2 separate regions of the Homo sapiens genome follow, and region 2 is linked to region 1. The links come from fine-mapping of genetic effects on gene expression. A gene starts in region 1. The other region holds a variant in brackets. All regions are shown on one strand. Distances are between the middles of the regions.

What was found. PIP is the estimated chance that this variant, and not a neighbour inherited with it, causes the effect.
Region 2: its variant is the best candidate, but not a certain one, in a credible set for the expression of HGD in whole blood (TOPMed, PIP 0.75).

Annotation. Positions count from the first base shown.
Region 1 is chr3:120,676,646-120,692,445 of GRCh38, reverse strand. HGD (homogentisate 1,2-dioxygenase) reads left to right here and starts at 10,207. Exons shown (of 14, transcript NM_000187.4): 1 at 10,207-10,349. The coding sequence starts at 10,335. RABL3 (RAB, member of RAS oncogene family like 3) reads left to right here. Exons shown (of 8, transcript NM_173825.5): 7 at 1,959-1,997; 8 at 2,558-7,508. The coding sequence ends at 2,623. RefSeq lists an enhancer at 14,489-15,439.
Region 2 is chr3:120,641,950-120,650,529 of GRCh38, reverse strand. It overlaps HGD (homogentisate 1,2-dioxygenase), which reads left to right. Exons shown (of 14, transcript NM_000187.4): 7 at 2,619-2,653; 8 at 3,478-3,557; 9 at 4,164-4,263; 10 at 6,087-6,211. Among named protein-coding and RNA genes, the nearest start is that of HGD, 36 kb to the left of the region's middle. RefSeq lists an enhancer at 7,534-8,580. The variant A/G (reference allele first, on the strand shown) is at 4,126.

The DNA of each region.
Region 1 (15,800 bases):
CGGGCAGATGACGAGGTCAGGAGATCAAGACCATCATGGCTAGCATGGTGAAACCCCATCTCTAGTAAAAATACAAAAAATTAGCTGAGTGTGGTGGCGGGCGCCTGTAGTCCCAGCTACTCAGGAGGCTGAGGCAGGAGAATGGCGTGAACCCAGGAGGTGGAGCTTGCAGTGAGCCGAGATCGCACCACTGCACTCCAGCCTGGGTGACAGAGCAGGACTCCATCTGAAACAAACAAAAAAAAAAGATTTCTTCTCCAAAAGGAAGTCTAACTCCTTCTCCAGCCTCTTTCAACTAGTAGTAATTCCTCACGCTCCAGAATAATCAGATTTTCCTGTCCTGCCATAGAGAGGAAAGGGAATCAGTCTCCTTCTTGGTTTTTGTGGGATTGTTTTAAGATGTACACTAATGATAAACCAACTTTTCTACCTCTGGGGTAAGTGAATGCAACTTTGCCCTGGTGTCTTGTGGCTAAAAATAATCCAGCTATAGTCTCCAAGACAGCAAGAATCTGGATGAATGGCTGTCGCACCAGAGAGAGCAAGCTGGTCTTGGTCTTGGATCTGGATGAATGGTCTTGGTGTTGAATCTGGATGAATGGCTGTGGCACCAGAGAGAGCAAGCTGGTCTGTTCTCATTCAGAGGAACTCTTAGCTGCATAATTTCAGATTTGAATGTCTTAGAGTTCATCTCCAGCTGATCTGTATTATTATCCGATTAACTTTTCTTATCACAGCAGGTCTATGTAAAGAAAATACAGCTATTCCTCAACTTGCGATAGGGTTATATCTCAGTAAACCCCTTGTAAATTGGAAACATTGTTAGTCAAAAATACATTTATTACACCCAACTTACCAAGCATCGCAGCTTAGCCTAGCCTTCCTTAAACATGCTCAGAACACTTATGTTAGCCTACAGTTAGGCAGAATCATCTAACACAAGCCTATTTTATTAAAAAGTTGTGAATGGCTCATGTAATTTATTGAATACTATACTGAAAGTGAAAAAAGTGCCCATTGTATGGGCACTCAAAGTACAGTTTCTACTGAATGCATGTTGCTTTCACACCACCATAAAGTCAAAAAATCGTAGTCAAGCCATCCTAAATCAGAGACCATTTATAATACTTCCTCTGTAACCATTGCAGTTTCTCAAGTGTCAGAACAGAATTTATTATTCTTGAAAATGTTTTTCATCATCTGGAAACATGGTGCTCTTTAGGGTTTACAGCAGTTTTGGGAAAAAATGAAAACATGGTGCTCTTAAACTTATTACATTTGGACATATATTTTGAGGGTTTCTTTTCAATAATGGTGATGGATTTGTGCAGATACATCTGCTGCTTGAACATGTTTTTTCTACTTATCAAATGCAGGTAATTCTGAAACTACTGAAGTAAGGGTGCAGTTAGTTAAAAAAAAGTAGACAATTTACAACAGTCATTAGACTGCTTTTGATGTTGTGTCATCTGTCTATATTGAGGACATATAGAATTTGTCACCACTTACTATAGGGATGTGGTGGTTTGCTATGTTAAACAGTCCCCTCTTTAAGAAATAGACAAGACTATTGTAGCAGGCAAGTGCTTTTTTTATTTTATGGATGCTGTTTAGTACCTTTTGGGACTGACTGCTAGGAAACTTAGAGTCAGATTTGCTGTCATACTCTAAGAATTGCATAGGATCTTATATCATTCTATCATTATTTAGTTTTTGTTATTCATTTATTTTTTGATCTATCATTAATGCGTTTTGGAATGAGGCAGGCTTTTATGGAAATACTCTCACAATTCTGATCTCATTAACACCAGATTTTTAGCTGACTGTACTACATGTCTACTGCTATGGAAAAGATTCTTAGTTTGGATATATTCCTTTTAGTACCATTAGTGGTCGTTGCAGTTAGCCACTTTTTGCAGGTATGTGTGCTAAGCCTTTAAAATCTTTGTTTTTCACAGGTCATAGAGAAGAGATACTTTTTAAGAGAAGGTAATCAGGTTGGTATCTCTTTTCTTGATAAAATAGATTCTTAAATTTTGATAGGTGATTTCCAAATTTAAGTTCAGAAGTAGTTTTAAAAAGTTGGGGAAAGCCCTTTATAGGCACAAGCAACTGATTTCCTTCTATCCTGTTAAATACAAAAGGAGAAAATCAGAACAAAGGGAAAATAAGGATCTAGGAAACAAATATAATCTAGGAATAAGATTACATTATAAAATAGAAGAAGAAAATAATTTGCTTGGGACTCCAAGAGTATACGTTCAGGGTCTGTCACAATACAAATAATTTCTATAAAAGTCTAGTAGGTATTATGAGATTTACCTTCATTCTTTCTGATTTAGATGACACTATCACCAATTTGTTGGGAAATGTTTTCCATTTGGGTAAGATTTATTTTTATTATTTAATCTGTGGTTTTCTGAGTAAAACCTCAGAAAGTTGTTTTTTTAAGAAACAGCAGGCTGACATACAGAAATGGAAAAGAAGGGAAAAATTACTATTAGTATTTGAACTTTTATTGCTTGAGACTTAATGCAATTATCTTTCTTGCCTACAGATTCCAGGCTTTCCTGATCGGAAAAGATTTGGGGCAGGAACATTAAAGAGCCTTCATTATGACTGAATTACACTCATCCTTTGGAAGAGTGAGCAAGCAGTGGCAGTTTTTCACAGCTCATCTTGCTGTGTTCAATTATTACCATCACAGCCTTTTAACAAAATCATCTTAAAATGCTACCCTTCAGCCTTACCCTTTAATGGAAAAATGAAAGGAAGTGACAATACGGGAGGTCCAAACTTTGTCCCTGTTCTCTGTGTTCCTTACCTTTCTGTCCCTGTGTATAGATTATGTAAAAGCCTTGTGTAAATATGAGATGTTGTCAAAATGATGCAGTAAATGAGCAATGACAGTGTACTGCAGAGAAAATTTACTCTTGCCTAGAACTGGAGGGTTTTTATGGGTCTGTAATTTTCCCACACTCATTGCTGAAAGCTTAATTAAGTACTTCAAAAACGTATCTCCATTGTTTTACCTTCTTGAGGGGAACGGTCTTGTTAACCAGCCCTGAGTTGTCTACCCCAAACAATCTCTGTCATTTTCAAAGATGCAAAATGGTGTTATTTAATTGTCTCCACCATTGTCACACACAGGAATGCCTAATAATAGCAACCCTTGTCTCCCTCTTCTCTCCTTTGCAAATGGCTCAGTGACTGGAAGAGGCGGACTAATAGCCAGAGTTAAATATAAATACAAATTAATAATACATAGAGAACAGCAATACCAGAAAAAAAGAATTCTGGTAAAATGATGTGAAAAATTGACAGCTCCCTCACTCTTAAGGTTGCTGCTATATACAGTCTAGGTTTTCTGTTTGGAAATAGGTAGGGTAAAATCTAAGACCTGCACAAGGGCAGTGAGAGACATTTACAGCCTCCTCTCTATTTGTTTTTTTAAGGAAAAGTCAACTCCTGAAATGTCCCTTAGCTATAATCAGAAAACTAAGAATATTATTCTGTGTCAACAATGTATTTATGGAGAGAAGTAAAAATAAGTTCCACAGCAACACATTTACATGAATTATGAACTAGGATTCTTGGATTTCATAATCACTCCAAAGCTTTTTGGGGATGGTGTGTGTGTGTGTGTGTGTCCGTAATTGTTCATCATTACTTTTTTTAACCTATCTTTTTGCTTGCTTAATCTTCTCTGCCCCAGTTCTTCCTGAGTATATGAATTTGATTTCTAAAAACAATTTATTCAACACTCTATCACCCGTATTCTCTCTCTGGCTCTGCTGCAGGTCTCTGCACTCCTGATTTTGCTCCATACTTTTAAATAACAATAATAAATATACAGTTTTCATTTCTCATTTAAAAAATAGGTGGAAAACACCAAATTCACTTTCTGTTCCATTTTAATTAGGTTTCAGAAGTATCTTGGAAATCAAGGTATGCTGCAAGAGGATATTAAAATAAGAATGTTAGAGAGTCCTTTTAGAAAGGCAGTCTTGGGAATTTGGAAAAGGATTTTTAAAGCAGCTTTCATCAGCTAGACTGTTCTCCAGCCTTTCTTTACTTCCTCTTTGAAAGGACATAGCCCTGGTTTCTTTTTGACACAAAGGAAAGCTATGCAAATCATGATCTGTATGTAGAATTGGTCACAAGTATGTTGTTGCATAGGCTGTACAGTTGGGAAGTAGAAACCAAATGCTACCCAGAGACCTAACCCAATTAAGCTCTTTGTATTTCTCCTTCAAGAAATAAATCTTCCTTCCTTCTTTCTTCCTCTTTCTTTTAATTTTAAAAAAATTCATCCTGATTTTTTTATTTTCTATCTTATTTAAAAAATAAAAATAGGCCAGGCGCGGTGGCTCACACCTTTAATCCCAACACTTTGGGAGGCGGGTCGATCACTTGATATCAGGAGTTTGAGACCAGCCTGGCCAACATAGGGAAACCCTGTCTCTACTAAAAATACAAAAATTAGCCAGGCCTGGTGGCACGCGCCTGTAATCCCAGCTACTTGGGAGGCTGAGGCAGGAGAATCACTTGAACCTGGGAGGTGGAGGTTGCAGTGAGTCAAGATCGTGTCACTGCACTCCAGCCTAGGTGACAGAGTGAGACTCCAACTAAAAGAAAATAAATAAATAAATATATAAATATATAAATAAATAATAAAAGTAAACTATTGCTGATGACTCCAGGGTCAATCTGGAAAAATTAACAGTATTCCTCAACTCCATTACTTTCTGCAGCCAAGCTTGATTCCTTGAATTATAGTTTTCTAAGAAAAAATAGTTTTTAATAATCTAAGGTAAATTTGTTGCAATTATTAGCAGCAGCATAATAAGGCTTTTTGCGCAAATGAATGTTATTAGCTAGAGTTATTCAAAAAAGAATGAAGCACAATTTTTGCTAGGACTTCTTGAGAACTATTCATAAAAATGCTTTTAGATAATAAACAAGTATAAATGTCAAAATATTTTTTTAAAAGTATAATTGGCCAGGTGCTGGCTCACGCCTATAATCCCAGCACTCTAGGAGACTGAGGCAGGAGGATCACTTGAGCTCGGGAGTTTGAGGCTGCAGTGATTCATGATTGCACCACTGCCTTCCAGCAGCCTGATGACAGAGTGGGACTCCATCTCTTTACATATGTATATCTTACTCTCTTGATGGGACAAGTTGGTAGAAATAAAGATTTTTTTTTTCTGTTGTGATTTCGGTGTCTGACCAATTTTCTGACTCATTGTGAAGGTGACCAGATATGAAGGCATATATATGACTACTCCTCTGTCCCTTAGGTGTATAAGACTTAGCTGGAATCCAACTAAAGATTTGGGCTGGTCTCTCCATCTTAACGTTGATGGGATTCAGGACACATAACCCCAAAATATTGCACCCTGTTATTTGAGAAAACTGCAGAAGCAAGGTTTCTCATACCTTCCCCTTACCCCTTCTCCCCTGAAGCAGGCCATAAACCCTAAGTGACTGTTCCCTGAAGTAGATCATAAAACCTTCATTCCATAGGTACCCTTTATCCTCACAGATACAGAGACACCAAGAAGAATCTGGACAAATAGGACTTGCTAAGTTCTCCACAGTTTATTACCATTAGATTATGTCCTTTTGTCCTCTGATTATACTTCTGCATAAGACTGTACATAAAAATACACAAGTTTTCCTATTTCTTTTTTGTCTTCATTTCTGAAGATTCCTGTCATGTAAAACTTACAGTAAATAAATGTGTGTGCTTTTCTCAATAATCTGTCTTTCGTTATAGGTGCCTCATTTGTGAACCTAGTGATGGGTGAAGAAAGAAAGCTCTTCTCCGCTACAGTGCTCTAAGAAAAGCTATTCCCAAAAGAGTTGATCCATATTAGCTTTAGCTCGGGTTCTTAGAATTCCTCAAACTTGAGGCATTCATGATATAATCCAGGTGCCCTGACACTTGTTTTTCTGTTCATTCTGACATGGACTTCATGGAAATGATGTGCAGGGACATCAGACTGAGGTGAAGAGCTCCTAATTGCTCCTTGTAATCAGAGTTTCTGAGTCCTCATTTCAATAGTTTGCAGTAGCACCCACCATAGGTAGGACCTTGTATGGGTTACTAGATGGTGGCTTAATTGAATTTTTTAAAGCACAGGTGACATCATATTTTAAGAAGTTTAAAGGTCTAACAGGGTGTCTGCATTGGTTTAATATATGTTAAAATTCAAAGGAGGAGTCTGTTTTGGGGAAAGGAGGAGAAGGAAATTAGAAATTCATTTCTCCGCAGTCCCAAGACTGAGCTAAATCACTGTGGTGGGAGAGGAAGGGTCGCAGGAAGTCTAACCCTGTGTCTCAAATATTTCACAACATGTTTGCCTACACAAAATATCTGATGTTAGGGTCAGCTGGGGCTGCTCCATAGCATAGTAAAGGAATTGGACATCCAGTTACAATTAATCTGCACCTCCATTAAGGACTCACATGGAGGGCTTTCAAACTCTGAAGTGTGTAAGAATCCCCTGAAGTGCTTGCTGAAAATGCAGATTCCACGATTTCCTCTCTCTTCCCTTACTCTCCCCTTTCTATATGTATAGGATAAGGCCAGGATTTTGTATTTTTAACAGACAAGCCAGATTTTTCTCATGCAGATAAGTCAGGATCTAGCCTTTAAGAAAGACAAATAAACTCATCAAAAAGTAGGGAATATAGATTGTGAACTCTGTACTTTATGAGTGCCATTATAGCAGAATTCATCAAAGCGCATCTTTGACTGCCTCAACCTGATCTCACCTTAATGAACTGATCCACTCCTCCCCACTCAAAGCTACATATGCCAAATTAAACATGAGATGATTGTCATGTCTTCTGTTGGCAAAACAAGTATTTGTCTTTCATGTATTGCTATCATTTTTATTACTGCCACTGTTTTTCCCCTGGGTTCTGTTTTTAATCCAAATATATTTATTTCTAACCAGTGCCTTGCCATCTTACACACAGCCCCCTCTCTAGTACTGTGTTTTCTCAGCTGGCTAATCACTAAGCTTTACCGAGGTCATCAATAACTAATGACAAAGAATGGAACCCCTAAACTCCAACCAAGGTGTAAAACCTCGCTCAGTACCATCAAGTATATCAGGTAATCTCTCCGTTCCATCTTTTTCTCGGAGACATCTGTCCTGGAGTCCTCTGATGCCTAACTCCGTTTTGGAGTGATTACTCTGTAGACCTGTCACACCCTGCTTCACATTACCTTGTAGCAATTCCTGGATGTAATGTTTTCCACTTTCTATCCAACTCTTACTCTATGGGACTTGGCTCAGACATAGTCTTCTCTGGGAAGCCCTCCCTGGCTCTGCTCGTCTGGGCTACGTGCCCACTAGTGCTTCCCCTAGATCCCTGGGCTCTTTCCTGTCAGAGCACTTACACTATGTTGTGATGGTTTTCAAAAATTGTTAAATAAATGAATGTATAATTACATTAATTAAAATGGAAAGCCATTAGACATAGAATCAGAACTTATCTGTAGCTGTGTAAGTTATTTATTCTCCAATCCCAGCAGGACATGATGGCTTATGCCTGTAATTCCAATACTTTGGGAGGCTGAGGCCAGAGGATGGCTTATGCCTGGGAGTTAAAGGCTGCAGTGAGCTGTGATGATGCCACTGCACTCCAGCTTGGATGACACAGCAAGACTCTGTCTCTAAAAAAAAACATTAAGTCAGGTGCAGGAGTTCACGTCTGTAATCCCAGCACTTTGGGAGGCTGAAGTGGGAGGATTGCTTGAGCCTAGGAGTTCAAGTTCAGCCTGGGCAACATGACGAGACCTCATCTCTACTAAAAAATTTTTAAAGTAGCCGGGTGTGGTGGTGTGTGCCTGTAGTCCCAGCTACTCAGGAGGCTGAGATGGGAGGATCGCTTTAGCCCAGGAGGTTGAGGCTTCAGTGAGCCATTTTTGTGCCACTGCACTCCAGCCTGGATGACAGAGAACCTGTCTCAAAAAAAAAATTAAATAATAAAATAATATTTTAATATCCCCTGTGTGTATTCTCTCCTTTTAGAAGGAATCCCTAAAGTTTAGTGAAAGATGTATTCAACTTTAAATATTTTCAAGCCCCTCAAAGTAATTTTAATCCAGTCAAGGAACTGTTAACACTTTCTTACCCCTTCAGAAGTCTCTCATACCTTAGGAAAGAACTGAAACACTTCTTAAATCTGCCTTCACAACTGGTTCAATGGAAGTAACATAGAAAGTTTGTTGAAAAATAAGGCAGTAAAGATTTCCCTTTGTCTTTTATTAGCTCCCATTTGTTTATCTAATGACCAACTGCTAACTTCCAAGATCAATAGAGATTGAAGGCCCAAGGTACTCATAAACTTAGATACACAGGAGATATTTTCTTCGAATTCAGTTTCAGAGTCTGCATGTTATAGGAATAGTGAAAACTTAGCCTCAATAAAGCTAGGGCCTCCACCTACCTTCCTCCTAGGTTTGCATATGAATTCCAGAATAGTTTATATAATGCCACAATGCCATCTGTCTATGCTGACATATGCTGAGGTTTCCTATCAGCTGCCCGGTCCGTAGGCATCAGTCCACATGGTTTGCTACCAGCATGTTTCCTATCAACATGTCCCCTTTGGTCTGGCCCAGTCTGTGCTAGCACCTCATACACAGGCAATAATTCTGCTGCTACTGCAGTATGCTGGAGCCTGGGGACCCTTGGAGGTTGTTTAAGCCCATTTATCTAAAGCAGAGGGTCTCAAACTAGCAGCCTGTGGCCACTTCAAATATGCACATGTTTTTCAACCTGCATGATTATATCAGTTATTTATCACTGCTTAACAAACCACCCCAAAATTTAGTAGTGTGAAATACACCATTCTATTTGTTCCCAATTCTGTGGCTCAGCAGTTCGGGCCAGATTTAACTGGTGGTTCTTCTGCTGGTCTTGCCTGGGATCACACATGTTCTGCAGTCACCTGGCAGCCAGACTGCCTCATTCACATGTCTGGCAGTTCCTGTGGGGCTTGCAGGGCTGTTGCCTGGACCTCTGGAGGCCAGCCCAGCTTCTCTGCACTGTGGTCTCAGGCTGCAAGAATGGGCCCTGTCCTAAGGCACAGGCATGTTTCAAACTCTGTGTCATGTTTGCTACTAGCCAAAGAAAAAGACCCTACCTCTTGATGGGAGGAACAGCAAAGTCACATTCAAAGGGGCACACATACAAGGATAGGAGGAATTGGAGCATTTTTTGCCATCTACCACAGGGTGGTTTCTCTGTCTCTCTCACTCTAATTACCAATGGTTAAAAATTGGAGCTTCATCTTATCTTGAAAAATCAGCTAGCCTACTTTATTCACTTACACTTCCTCCCTCATCTGTTGGCATTTGAGTTGTGATAATGCCTAATTTACAAGATTGTTTTTGTGAAGTTAGATATGGAAAAATCTGACAAAAGCAGAAACTCAATATATGTTTTCTCCTTTCTGAACACCACTAGTCATGAAGCTGCTACCTGCCAATGACCAAGGAGAGCGGCCAAGATGAAGAACAAGGGAGTCATAGAGGAGGTGGCTGGAGAATAATCCCTTGGTCTGTTTTAGAAGTATAGAGGCATTAGGAAACAAAACTCTTAAAGAATTTATAAGAAAACTAAACGTACTTTAAGAAATTAAAAGGAGCAGTAGGAAACATATCAGTTTGCTCTAAGTGAAATATCTCAGGCTCTGAATGGTTCACCCAAGAACCTGAGCTCATTCCTGGGAGGCACCTGCAGAAAACTGGTTCTGGTCCTGGTCCCTGTCTTCAGGTGGCTGTGTGTAAACATCTTACCCCAGTGTACACATCTGCAGCTGGTAAATGCCTGGGGGTTTTCTCACTGCTCTCCAGGAGACTCAGCACTGCCCTGTTCCTTCCTAGCCTGAGTCAGGACTGAGCAGAGAATCCTCCACCACACACAGCAGGCACTATCTGCCACAGTTCCTTTCCCCGATAGCTTCAAATTCTCTGCCTTTTGAAATAAGCCTACTTTTAACTGGAATAAATAATTGGTCAATCTCTACCTCAGGTGAAGAGGAACCAAGCCTCTGGAAACACTTAGGAACAAACTGTAAAAACCAAAGGCAATTGTGTAACCGGTTAAATAAGCTTGCTGGACTTTGTCCCTGTGTATGAGTTAGACAATTCTTTCAGCTAGTTTGAGTGACGCACTGACCAGTGAAGCGCAGTGAAGCAGTGGGAACCGGAATATCCAAAGAGTGGTTTGAAGGAGAAAGAAGCATTGTGGCTTTATATCCTCTGGGCCTGGGTTTCCTGAAGTCACCACACATAGAGGAGAGAGAAAATGGCTGAGTTAAAGGTAAGAAACCATCTGACAAGTTTGCTATGGCTTCTTCAGCCAAAATTTATGGAAGTTTCTGAGAACTTCAGGGTATCAGAGTTGGAAAAGACTTAGAGAGGCCCTGGTTCAAACCCCTGTGTTCAGAGGCTTCCCTGTGGTGTCTGTGGGCACAGCTGGAGCTGAAGAACAAGGGAAAGGTGATAAAGGAAAGAAATGAAGCTCTTATTGGTCATCCCTTGCCTTTGTTCATTTCAATTATTGTCTTGGAAATCTGTAGACATCCTAAGAGCTCCCCTCCACTACGGACATGCACGTTTCTCTCTATGTCTTTTTCCCAACCCCTGCTCTGACACCTTCCCATTGCTGCAGCCTCATGGACCACTTCCGGTGACCAGTTAGATATGCTTGATCTATTTAGTTAATTAAGGCTCTGAATCAGCCCTTGGCCAGAAGAAGCACCTCCTCTAGGAAATCATTCCTTCTTTTTAGTAATACGCAATTGAAAAGTATGTGTGGGTTATGTGCTGTTAGGTGCTAAGCATTTTAGCTATGAATTAACTCATAATCCTCAAAATAAATCTGGGGTATAGAGAGAGGTTCTTGTTTCAATTAGAAAAGTAATGCTTGGAGAGACTATGATTTGCCCAAGGTCACTGCCAATAGATGACTTGATTAGAAGCAGGGTATGTTTGAATGCGAAGTCCAGGCTCAAAAAGGGGCCTTAGTGGCTCCTACTAGACTGGTATCTTAAGGCAAGGAAAACAGAATATGTCCCTAATATCTAAAACCATGCCTAGTGCCCAGGCCAGGCTTGAATCAATGCTCAACGCATGCATGTGTAACTGAACAGAACTGCCCAGAACCTTGGCTCAGGCCAAGTAGGCCAGACCACCCCACAACAGACATCTTCCCTGAATGCAGGGTTTGAGAAGTGCCCTAATGCCCTCTAACTGATGCTGAGTTTGAAGAATCCATCAGTTAAGGGGAGGTGTTTCTGAGTTTGAAGAATCAAACACCTTCCTAATTGGTAGGAATCCTGAAAACACTCCACACCGGAGTAAAAGACTTTGGTTTTTTATCTTTATGCCTGACTAAAAGTTAACTCTCATTCTTTCATTCAGCAAATATTTTGTGCTAGTGCATGACACTGCAGATTAATATCGTAGATGAACTGAGTCTGGGCTAGGTAGAGTCAAAAAAAAATTTCCTAAAGGAGCCTGTACCTAAACTGAGTCTTCAGAGAGAAGTTGGAACTGGCAAAGTGAGGAAGGACGGGGTCTGGAGGGAAGAGTGAGTGCAAAGGCACAGCACATACAGAATGCCTGCATGCTCTAGAATCCAAAACTGTGTCAGCCAAATTTGAGTTGATGGAGGGACAGCCAAACTGAGATACCCAGGCGGTGGTTGGATTTATGGATCTGGATTTCAGGGGAGTGGGCAGGGCTAGGGGAATAGAACTGAGGGTCATGATGTCAGTGGTAGGAGTTGAAGTCTTGGAAGAAAGAGTAGATAGAAACTTTGTTTTCTGATGAACATTCTATGAGGAAGTTCAGCAGAGGTTGGAAACATCTTTACCATTTATAAATAAATTTTATGTAAAATCCTATCCTGCTGTCATGTTTAAGCAACTTATTATGCACAGCACCAGGACATCAATGTAAATTGCATGCCAGTCTTTGCTCTCAGTTTCAAAGGCATTCTTCCCTGCCTGCTGTCTAATCTTTACAAAGAAAGGTTAACTCCAGAGGTCAGGAATCTGAACACAGAAAACCAGATTGCATCATATTCATTCTAATCAATAAACATTATATAATTTTTAAAACTGTTTCTCATCTTTTATTTCTTCATTTTAATGAATATGTCAACACAAAGCCGTAAATGAAATCACATTTACACAAAAGTACAACTGGGGTAAGAAAATTCAAAAGATAAAGTAATAAAATTAAATTTAAAATGAAATACCCTATGTATTTGAGTAAGTTGCTTAGCTTCTCCCAACCTTGGTTTCCTCATTTCTAAAACGAAGAACTTGCTTAATATTCAGGCTCTGGGCCCCACCACCAAATCCTTGATTCACTGGCTCTGGGTCTGTATGTAACAAGCTTCTGGAGTGATTCTAATGATTAGCCAGAGACAGGACCTACTATTCTACGTAACTGATTTCCTCTTGCTGCTGTAAAAAATTACCACAAATTTATTGGCTTAAAACAACACAAATGTATTATCTTGAAGTTGTGGAGGTCAGAAGTCTGAAATCGGTTTCACTGGGCTAAAGTCGAGGTGTCAGTGTGGCTGTTTCTTCTGGAGACTCTATGAGAGATTGTGTTTTCCTGCCTTTTCCATGGATTCTGTTTCCTCTTCTAGAGGCTACCCACATTCCTTGGTTTGTAGCCTCTTCCTCGATCTTCAAAAAAATGTATCTCTGCTTTTGTAATCACGTCACATTTTCTCCTCTTATAAGTCAAATCTCCCTTTGCCTCCCTCTTATAATGACACTTGTGATTACATTTAGGATACACCCAAATAATTAGGATATCTCCCCATCCCAAGATCCTTAATTATATATGCAAAAGTCTGTTTGGCTAGAAAAGATAATACTCACAGGTTTCAGGGGTTAAGCCATACATATCTTTCAGAGTGAGCCATTAGCCATTATTCAGCCTACTGCGATAATGTGCAAGTTCCCTTTACAATCTATGTTCTATGTTCCCATCAAGGTTAATTAGAAATATTAGACTCTTTTTCCACAGAAAAAAAAAATGTAGCAGTAGTTTCATCTCTACCCTGACTTCTCTCTCTTTCCTTCATGCCCAGTAAGAGGAAGTGAGGTGCACCATCTGTTCATCTCATCAGGTGTTACCTAGAATCAGAGTCAGGAGAAAGCACCTCATAAAACTACTCTGACAAGTAAACCATATCCTGGGGACCAGGTGAGAATTAAAAAGCTGTATACTCATAAGCTGCCAAAGAGCTGATGGTACTGAAGTCACATGGAGCTCAGGAATTTATTCTTGCATTTAGAAAGTATGCATATAATTCTCTCGAAAAGAAATGAAATCATATTTTTCTGTCGGATCAAATTATTCAGAAATCCGAACTGTAGAAAACATACAAACACACTTGCTTAATGTTAGCTTTTTAATCTTATTTTTGTACACAGTATACTTTTACATAGGCACTGAACCAGCTGGAAATGAATGCTTGGATTTTCGCAGCTGATAAAAGCAGAGTTCAGATTCTGTCCTTGAGCTCAATGTCTGGAGAAAGCAGCTGTGAATACTGCTTCCTTAATTCAGATGCCTTTGGCCGTGAGGGGCATGGCATTTTAAAGCTGCAATAAACTCTGTACTTTTTCTCTCAGGGGATTAGAAAAACCAATTGATTTGATAGTGACTCAGCAGTTTTCACCTTCCTCTTTAGCCAATGCCCTGCAGCTAAGATTGAGAAACGGATTCAGAACTCACACCTCTTGGTGCTTGGTGGCTCCCTTCCAAACCATCAGCTGTTCTTTCTACTTTCTTTCCTATTTTTTAAAGCACAGTCTGAATCAAGTGCTTCAGAACCATTTATACTAACTCGTGTTCCAAACACATAACCCTGAACCCTCTTCTAAGGCCACCAGTTACAAAGAATGGGGAAGGTTAATGAGTAACTCCACCAGTGCCTGCCAGAAAGCTCAGCTGTACTCCAGCCTTCCTTCCTCTCTTGCAGAGAGAAACAATGCGGCAGTTGAACAAAGCGAAGGCACTGTAATGCCCAGTGGCTTCAGTCACAGGCTGGTCTAAAATTCCATTTCACAGAATTGAAGATAATTTGGGGTTATTACCAATTCTCAGCAGCTCAAATTCAATCCCGTTGATGGTGAGCATGGGGTTCATTTTGAGAGTAGAAAATTGGATGCAGTGGAGAATCAGAATGTTGGATGGTCTCTGCCATTTCCCCAAAGATATCATCCTAACTGCATGCTGCTGCTTTTAACAAATCAGTATACAACTTAGTATTTTTTGTGTTGACAAATTTTCAAATATACAAAATATTGAGTCTGAAGGCAAAAAGAATAATTTTTCACTTCCATTGCTTCCTAGGTCATAACATTCACATCTGATATTTCTTCCAAATACAGACTGTTGTTGGCCTGATCATCACTCACACATCCAGGCTTGTTACATCTCCACGCCACTGAGTATCAGGGAACCTGCCCCAATATTCACGTAGGTTCTTTTCTATTTTCCCTAAGCGTCGGCCAACTTTAGAAATAAAGGGACAGAGTACAAAAGAGAGAAATTTTAAAGCCGGGCATCCGGGGGAGGCATCACATTTCGGTAGGTTCCGTGATGCCCCACAAGCCACAAAAACCAGCAAGTTTGTATTAGGGATTTTCAAATGGGGAGGCAGTGTGCAAATAGGTGTGGGTCACAGACATCAAGTACTTTACAAGGTAATAGAATATCACAAGGCAAGTGGAGGCAGGGTGAGATCACAGGACCACAGGACCGAGGCGAAATTAAAATTGCTAATGAAGTTTCGGGCACCATTGTCATTGATAACATCTTATCAGGAGACAGGGTTTTTAGGATCAACTGGTCTGACCAAAATTTATTAGGCGGGAATTTCCTCTTCCTAATAAGCCTGGGAGCGCTGTGGGAGACTGGGGTCTATTTCACCCCTGCAGTCTCGACCATAAGAGACAGGCGCACCTGGAGGGGGGCTGTTTATAAGCCTATACCTCCTGGCTCGTATTCTCTTTCTCAGGGATGTTCCATGCTGAGAAAAAGAATTCAGCGATATTTCTCCCATTTGCTTTTGAAAGAAGAGAAATATGGCTCTGTTCTGCCTGGCTCACCAGCAGTCAGAGTTTAAGGTTATCTCTCTTATTCCCTGAACAATTGCTGTTATCCTGTTCTTTTTTCAAGGTGTCCACATTTCATGTTGCTCAAACACACATGCTGTACAATTTGTGCAGTTAATGCAATTATTACAGGGTCCTGAGGCAATATACATCCTCCTCAGCTGACAGGATTAAGAGATTAAAGTAAAGACAGGCATAAATCACAAGGATATTGACTGGGGAAGTGATAAGTGTCCATGAAATCTTTACAATTTATGTTTAGAGATTGCAGTAAAGACAGGCATAAGAAATTACAAAAGTATTAATTTGGGGAACTAATAAATGTCCATGAAATCTTCACAATCCACGAACTTCTGCCATGGCTTCAGCTGATCCCTCCGTTTGGAGTCCCAGACTTCCCGCAACAACTGAGAACTCTGGAGGGCCTACCCTTCACCCACTTCCACCCTTCTTATATCTCTTAAGGAGCTGTGTTCAGATGGTTACATTTCGCTTGCTGAGCAAGACTGCATTTTCATTATCCTGGGCTAAAATCAATTGGTATTTAAGTTAGAGCAAAAAGGGTTCTAACCCTATTTACAGCAGCACACATACACTTACATTAGAATTGGCTTTAAGGG
Region 2 (8,580 bases), 38 kb after region 1:
GAAAAGGGAGGATGGAGCCCTGGAATGCAGGAGTAGATCGAAAGGCATTTTGACTTTAAGTCTGAGTCCAAATATGCTTTTGTTGTTGTTTGATATTTCAAGGATTTTTCTGAGCCAAATATGAGTGACCAATGGCCTGCGACACAGCCATCAGGAGATCCTGAGAACATGTGCCCAAGGTGATTGGGCTACAGCTTGGTTTTATACATTTTAGGGAGGCATAAGACATCAGTCAACACATATAAGGTGTACATTAGATCCAAACTGTGGTTTTTATCTCAGTAGAAAAGTAACAGCAGATTTAAAGCAGGCAGAAAAGAAAACAGAGAAATAGAGAACTTAGAAACTCTGTAGTTGCAGGTTGACCTTTGGGCTCTGAATGATACAATTTTCCCATTGGTTTAAAATGTGCACAACAGACTGTAATATGTAACCAGCTGGAGTACTAGAAACTCTGGCATACCCTTGAACTTTTCCATTTTACACAAACACTTGCAAGTAGAGGCACCTTTCTCCTTGTCTTTCCTCATTCTTAGATTATTTGTTTCCCACGTTTTTTTTCTTAAAAGGAGGAACTGAGCTGTGACCTAGGGGTTTTGTGGGTGGTGGATTGGTGTACTGAATGTAGGCAGGACTCCACAGTGTTTCACCACCGAGTCGTTTCCACCCTCTTACCTGTCTCAGTTTCTCTCTCCAGAGATCTAGCACCTCTGAGAGGCCTCAAAATGCCAAGTGATCAGCTCTTATATGTATTTCCGGGACAAAACTATTTTTGGGGGGGTTCCCTGTAGCGCCACTGCACATCACAGGGGATGAATCCCTCAGACACTGCAACTCAGCCCCTAGTCACCCAGGGTGCCTTTCAGTTGGGAAGAACAAAATGCCCTTTCTCTTCAGAGCTGAGGAGCTCAGTCTCTCATTTATGCACAAAAATGACAGTCACACGAATGCGCAGGCAAGCCAACTGAGCTAAATTTGGGGAGAAAAAACAATGGAGTAGACCATTTAGAATACACCTCCAAACTGGAAACCAAACAGGGTACCCAAAAGGGAGTCATTCTTGTTGTCTTTAGAAAAAGACAACGGAGGCCGGGCACAGTGGATCACGCCTGTAATCCCAGTACTTTGAGAGGCCGAGGTGGGCGGATCACGAGGTCAGGAGCTCGAGACCAGCCTAGCCAACATAGTGAAACCCCATCTCTACTAAAAAATACAAAAAATTAGCCGGGCGTGGTGGTGGGCGCCTGTAATCCCAGCTACTCAGGAGGCTGAAAAAGGAGAATTGCTTGAACCCGGGAGGCGGAGGTTGCAGTGAACCGAGATCATGCCATTGCACTCCAGCCCGGACAACCGTGTGAGACTCCATCTCAAAAAAAAAAAAAAAAAAAAAGAAAAAGAAGAAAAAGACAATGGAGAAATCCTTTAGAATGGACCTGTGAACTAGAATTAGGAACCTAAACAAGAGCTTCCTAGGAGGGAAAAATCAAGAACTGTCAACCAAACAGGGCTCAGGAGGACTTAACAGTTCCATCAGAGGAGAAGCCCAAAGTTGAAGGCGCTTTCAATAGGTCCCTGCTGATACCTTAGCTCTGAGTTCAGGCAACTCCTTCAGGGTTCTGAGTCTTCTCTGAGGCCCAATGTGTCCAGGTGCCAAATTATTGTTGACAAAAATAGTCAAACTATTAATATGTAAAATATTTGAATTGATGTATTCTGAGCCAAATATGAGTGACCAGTGACCCATGACCCAGCCCTCAGGAGATCCTGAGAACATGTGCCTTTGAATATCCTTAATTTCTAAGGTTCCCCAGGGCTGTTCTTGAGTCCCAGGTCACAGTGTGTGAGTTTCCATTAGGACCACCCATTAGTAGCAGGCTACCCGACTTTGGCTTCAGCTAACAGCTCTGTGTAAGCTTAAAATTCTTAAGTAGAGGAGCTTATATACTGGCTTTGCAAAACAAAGTATGCAAATGGCATTCCTGCCTTATTATACACTACCTCTGGAACTGGACCATTTGTGTCCAAAGCCCAACTCTACATTTCCTGGCTGAGCGACCTTGTGAGCCATGAATCAGGGACAAGATCACAGCCCTATGACAAGGCTCTGGAGGCCTCTCTTTGGGTCAAATCTCATATCAGGCCACCTCCCCTCTCTCCACTTGAGCCGCATTGGCCTTCATTCACTTCTTTCAAGCTGCCGCGTGCCCTCCTTCTAAGCACTTGCACTTGCTGTTCCTTCTGCCTGGAACATTCTTTCCTTTCTCCAAACCCTCACCTAGATAACACCTTCAGATATCCGGTCAAATGTGTCCCTTCTTTGAAGAAGCCTTTGCTGATTCTTCAAACTAACCAAGTCGCTATTCTTTCATTCCCTCAAACTTGATTTTCACAGGGTCATTACAGTCTGCAAAGATATTGTTCTGTAATTATTTGATTGCTCTCTGACTCCCCACTAGACTCTAAGTTCCACAAGGGCAGAGCCTGGGTCATTTTGCTCCCCATTTTATACCCAGCTCTGAGCTTGCTACATAGGCACTAAACAATGATTTGTGTTATGACGTAATTTGTCTAGACAATGTTAAAACTGAAAATCACAAGAATTACTCTATATGTTTCAGATGCTTTTACAATTCAGATGGGGACTTCTTGATTGGTGAGTTCTGAAGACTTCAGACCCCCTCACTGTTAATTGACCCCTAACCGCAAGCTGCTTTCTAATTTTATACACATTATTTTCCTTCATTCTCCAATCTGTCTTATTTCATTTAGTGCAATCCAGAGACTGAGGTCTAGAGGCCACAGGTGGTCTGGAAAAGATTTCTAGTGTACCTCAAAGCCCCTACTCTATTTCCTTGTCTCTCTGTCTTTGCCCATCTCTTCTGGACCTTTCTGATGTGGGAGACCTGGGCAGCTGAAAAGAAATGAAGACTAATACTAATGGGATTAACTTATTACGGTAACTGTATTTGCCTTGAAACTCTCTCAGTAAAAGCCCATTTATCATTAGTAACTGCAATTTAAATTCAAATTTTCATGAGACCATCTAAAATGTAAAGTCTATCAGAGATTGTTCTGGTCTGCCTATTATACTTGATGGTTTTTTAGTATCAATATTTTGGAATCAACATTTTCGTGTATATGTCACACAAGCAAATGTCAGCCTTTCACTGGAACTATCAGAAATGGGTGATTTTCCATCCTATTTCTGCTACCCCTTTTTGACCATGTCACAAAATTGTGCATATACAAGTTCCTTGCCTGGTGACCAAAAAAGCAGAGTCATTGTTTTATTCACATTCTTCTAGATAGGAAAATAGCTAATCTAAGTTGTCAGAATTTATCTTTTTCCCCAAGAGACTCAATAAAGCTCTTTGCATTTGGAATGGAAAAGCAAATGCAGCCTTAAGCCTTTCCTGTTCATGAAATGGTTATCACACCAAAAGAATTGCTCACCACTGCCCTGTCTTTTTTTGTCAGTTCCGCAGAAAGGGAACCTTCTCATTTACACCGAGTTTGGCAAGATGCTTGTACAGCCCAATGAGATCTGCGTCATTCAGGTTGGTGATGTGTCCCCTTCTCTTCCCTGCCTCTCACTAATTTGGGAGCAGTCAGATGTTTCAGCTGCTGCTATTTCCAACTCTAAAATTTCTCTGTCATGTCTGGGCAACGAGGAGGGAATCTGAGTTATGCAGAAGGTTCCATGTGCTGAAGAGTAAGCAAGCTTGGGTGCCTGCTTTCTTTTAATATAGCACATAATTCTAAAGGAAAGACCACTTGTCATTGCACTTTCCTAAATATTTACATATACTCTGGATAAGGCCCTGTTCCCACTAATGGCAGTAGAGGCAGTGAAGGTGGACTTTTTTTTTTTTTAGTGTGGCTAAATCAGGCTTACCATTATCTCTGGACCCAATGAGAGGGTAGACTAGAATTGGCTTGGGTCACATGTGTGATTAGGAATTCAGTTTTTCTTTTTAAACTGAATTTTAAAAATTTCTTTTTAAAAAAATTCAGTTTTTCATGTTTGCTCTGGTCACCTCCCAAGCAGCTCAACAAACAAGAGCTTTACTTTTGCATGTGGGATGGGCTATGGCTCTGGGCAGCTTCTTTATAACTACAGCTGTG[A/G]TTTCAGAGGGCACACCAGTGTCTGCTTTCCATTCCAGAGAGGAATGCGGTTCAGCATAGATGTCTTTGAGGAGACCAGGGGCTACATCTTGGAGGTCTATGGTGTCCACTTTGAGTTACCTGACCTTGGACCAATTGGTAAATCTTCATTACAAGCCTCTAAGCCTCGCTTGAGATGTAGGACTCAGATAATTGCATGAAAGTTAAACATCCTTCTCCCTTCGCTGTCTCACTCAAACTTCCACTTTTCTCTCTAGACAAATTCTTCTCTAGACCAAGTGTCTTCCCAGAAAATATATGCAAAACAGAAAGCAACCCAAACCAATCCATTATAAATCTCTCTAGAATAGTATACAGACATTGGAGATAAAGACGGCATGTAATAGATTTCTGGTTGCATAGTGTGTACAGGAAAGAATATAGAAGTTTGGGTTACTGTGGGCTTGGGTCACCAGAAACAGCTCCACAGAAGAGATGAGAATTTGACTAATTCTTTATGAAAAGTTGAGGAGAGTAAAGAGGAAAGGGAACAGCTTTGCAAAAGCATATAAGTGAGAATAAGCTTTGTGATTAGGAGGAAGATATTTTTGTTAAGTCAGTGAGATTTATAATGGATTGGTTTGGATTGCTTTTTGTTTTGCATATTGTATAAAATGGGAAGGCCATAAAAATGCCCTGGGCTGTATTCCTATGGAAAGGAGGGATGGACTGGGTGACACATAGTCTATGAACCTCTGTGTACACCCCACCAAATCCACACACTTAGCAGTCAAAAAAACACATCACTCAGTGCTATGAGAGATCTAGAAACCACACCCCAGGAGGCAGATTAAAACATTCCAAAGTGAACCAAGGTCTCCACAGCCCCCATTCTTCTGGCAAGCTGGAGGAAGTGAAAATGTTAGGAGGGGTTGTTCTCAAACTGTCTCTTGGATTGAAAGAAATGGCTGGGAAAATTGGCCCTTGGTTTACTCTTTGGTCACATCTCCCAATTCTTCCCTTCCTTGTCAACAGCTTTTTAGAGCAAACAGGGACAGGCCAGTGTGTGCCTTCTGGTCAGCTCCTCTGAGGAATCCAAATATGCAGAGGAAGGTGGGAGGCAGCAAGAGGCAGCTGGAGCCGTGGTGGGCCGTCTGTCATCCTGTTCACCTCCCACTCTTCCCACTCTGCTCTGGCTTCCTGCTGCTCTATAGTCAGCATAGCCTCCAGGTTCCGTGGAACATGTACCCTCTGGAAAATATCTATAATTTGCTAACCAGCCGGGGACTTATTTTTTTAAGTCCAGGAGCTGGAAATGATAAAACACTCCTCAGCTCGCTCCTCTCAGAGTTAAACTGTTTTTGCACTTAAGTTTTTCATGTTTGGTCTTTTGATTTATTTCCTTTCTCTGGAGGAAACACTCACTCCTAAGCAAAGGTAAGCAGGCAGGTCCTAAATACTTCTTCCTGAGTGGCAGACAGGGTTTTTCAGGCTGGAGAACCGTTTTCAGACTGGAATCTGAGTTCTGTCTAGGGAGCAGAGGCATGCCTTAGGCAACAGCGTGTAACCCTTTCTATCTGAGATCAAGGACTGTCAATGACTTCTAGAATATTCAAGGGTTCCTTCAAAAGAAAAAGTTCTGGAGTTCTATCAGATCTTCCCTTTTCCTCTTTTCAGTTCTCTTTCTCTCTTCCCTTCCCCTCACCTGTAGTGATAAGATAATGCATATAAGATTGTTTTGTTAACCATAGTCACTCCACAACCTTAGAAAGTAATGCTGGTTTTTGTGAATTTTTTTCTGACCAGATTCCTTGGGTCTTCCTAAAAGGTACCAGACTGGAAATGCAGTGAATCTTTGAGCAATGAAAGCAATTTGTGGAGTAGCTCTTGACATGAAAGAAAGCCTTTCTCTTCATGCAACCATGGGCATCTTTCCTATGTTTTGGAAGTTTCTAAAAGACTTTTGGGTTACTGTTTTCTAGGGGCCAATGGCTTGGCCAATCCTCGTGATTTCTTGATACCCATTGCCTGGTATGAGGATCGCCAAGTACCAGGTGGTTACACGGTCATTAATAAATACCAGGGCAAGCTGTTTGCTGCCAAACAGGTAAAGTAAAAGGGTTGGCAGGCAAGGGAGGAAATGAAGAGTGATTGAGCACTTACTGATTGCCAAGGCGAGTGTTACAAACTTTACATATATCCTTTCGTTGTTATCATACCACTACGGCACTACAAATAAAGCAAATAGTTCTAGTAGTCAATTATACTTTCATAGTCATGGAAAAGGCCAGTAATGATAAATAATTTACCAATTTCACAGTAAGTGGCAGAACCAGAATTTGAACCCATATCTGTCTGACTCCAAAGGTTGTGCCCTTTCTACTCACCAAGCAATGAAAATATTAGCAATATGTAGGTTTCTATAAGTGGTATGGAAAACATAATATATGGGCAGCATAATATGTTCTGAAAAGTAAATGAGTTAACAGATCAGCCAAGATTTATAGTCTCCAATACCACCCTATTTCAAATACAAGCAATTCTACAAAACAAGTAGAATTCAGTTAATTAGCTTGGCTTGGTTTGTACCACCAGGCTGGCAATTCAGGACACAAGCAAAGGCACAGATATTAATAAATAATAATAACAACAATGTAATATGGACTCTATAACATAATATATTACTAAATGTACTGAATATATATTAGAATAAAATAATCATATAATAAGAAGAACCCAAAGATCTCTTCTGTTTAGCATTATTTGTTTGCTTCATTTTGTCTATTTGACTTATTCCTTATATTTTCCAAGGTATGTTATTCTTCTTAGGCAGCATCTAGAGATAATGCCAACCAGCCGAGGCCAACCAGTTTGGCACTTAAAATTAACCCCTGAAGCAGACATATTGTTATTCTCTTATTCTCTGGGTCAAGGTCTCTCAAAATTCGGGGGCTATTTGCATCAGAAATCCTCAAGGAGGCTTGTTTAAAATTCAGATCCTAGGCTGGGCATGGTGGCTCATGCCTGTAATCCCAGCAGTTTGGGAGGCCAAGGCAGGCGGATCACCTGAGGTCAGGAATTCAACACCAGCCTGGCCAACATGGCAAAACCCCGTCTCTACCCAAAATACAAAAATTAGCCAGATGTGGTGGTGCACACCTGTAATCCTAGCTACTTGGGAGGCTGAGGCAGGAGAATCGCTTGAACCCAGGAGGTGGAGGTTGCAGCGAGCCAAGATCATGCCATTGCACTCCAGCCCGGGCGACAGAGCAAGACTCCCTCTCAAAAAAAATGCAGATCCTTAGATACTACTCTAGCCTTGCAAAAAATGATAAGCTTTGGAGATGGGACATGGAAACCTACATTCATTTTAAGCATGTTCCCCAGATCATTGTTTACATACAATTGTTAAAGAACCACAATTGTAGAAGCAGCCAGTAGCTCCTCCGAAAGGTTTGCACTTTCCAAGTGGACCCTGTGCTGGTTATTTTCTGTGTGAGTCCCCACTGATCCATTCTCCCTCTTTGCCATGATCTGTGCCCTGGAAGGTTGACTGTATCACCCGGGCTCCCTAGCCAGCTGGTTTCTGTTGGGTTCAACCCACAGGAAACTACAAGGCAGGAGGAAAGACAAATTGGGATATTTCTTCCCCTGCTTCCTCGCTGTTTAGGACTGTGTTTCTGACAGTAGCTGCATCCCCCATATGACCTCAGTTCCTGTTGGGTAGCCCTAGTGGTGGGCTGGAGCTGATTCATAGTGACTTGCAAAAGCTGATATGCACGCTTCTGTCCAACTGTGTATTTGTTGATGTCATACTGGTAGCTAGAAAATCATCATGGTGAGACTGTATACACCTTAGAAATCAGTAAACACTATATGTCAATGCTTTATGTATTTTTTTCAGAGTGCTAGTTGTGAAATATTTACCAGCACACCACTGGGTAACACCCTTCTTTATAATTCTAGCTCTTGCTAAAGTCCTATAACAATATTTCCCTCCTCATTCCACATGCCCAGGAATAGCAGTGTCTTCCCGCTATTGCTAGGCTCAGATACCTCAACATTTCTAGTCATTCCAGTTAACCCTAACCACGCCTCTATGAGTAGCGCCTTCATTAAAATCTTTAGCACTTTCGGACCCATAGATACAGAAGGGACCACCTTCCTATAGCAGGACACTGATCCTCTTCTACCCCAGGACAGGACCAGGAAGTATTATGTTAGGATTGCTCTGAAATCTCAAGTCCTTGGAGTTGGAACTTTTAGAGGCCTTCTCCCCTCTCCTGGACTCACCAACCCAGGCACTGTGTCTATTGCAAGCTCCTCTAGGCTGAAATTACCTGGAGAAGCATCACAGCAGGTACTCTCTGTTCCAGGAAACAGAAGGTAGCCCAGATTGTTTGAGAACTGCTGACATCCACAGATCCTCACAGTTAGGTTAAAAATTGTTGAAAAGGCACTACTTGGAGAATGTGC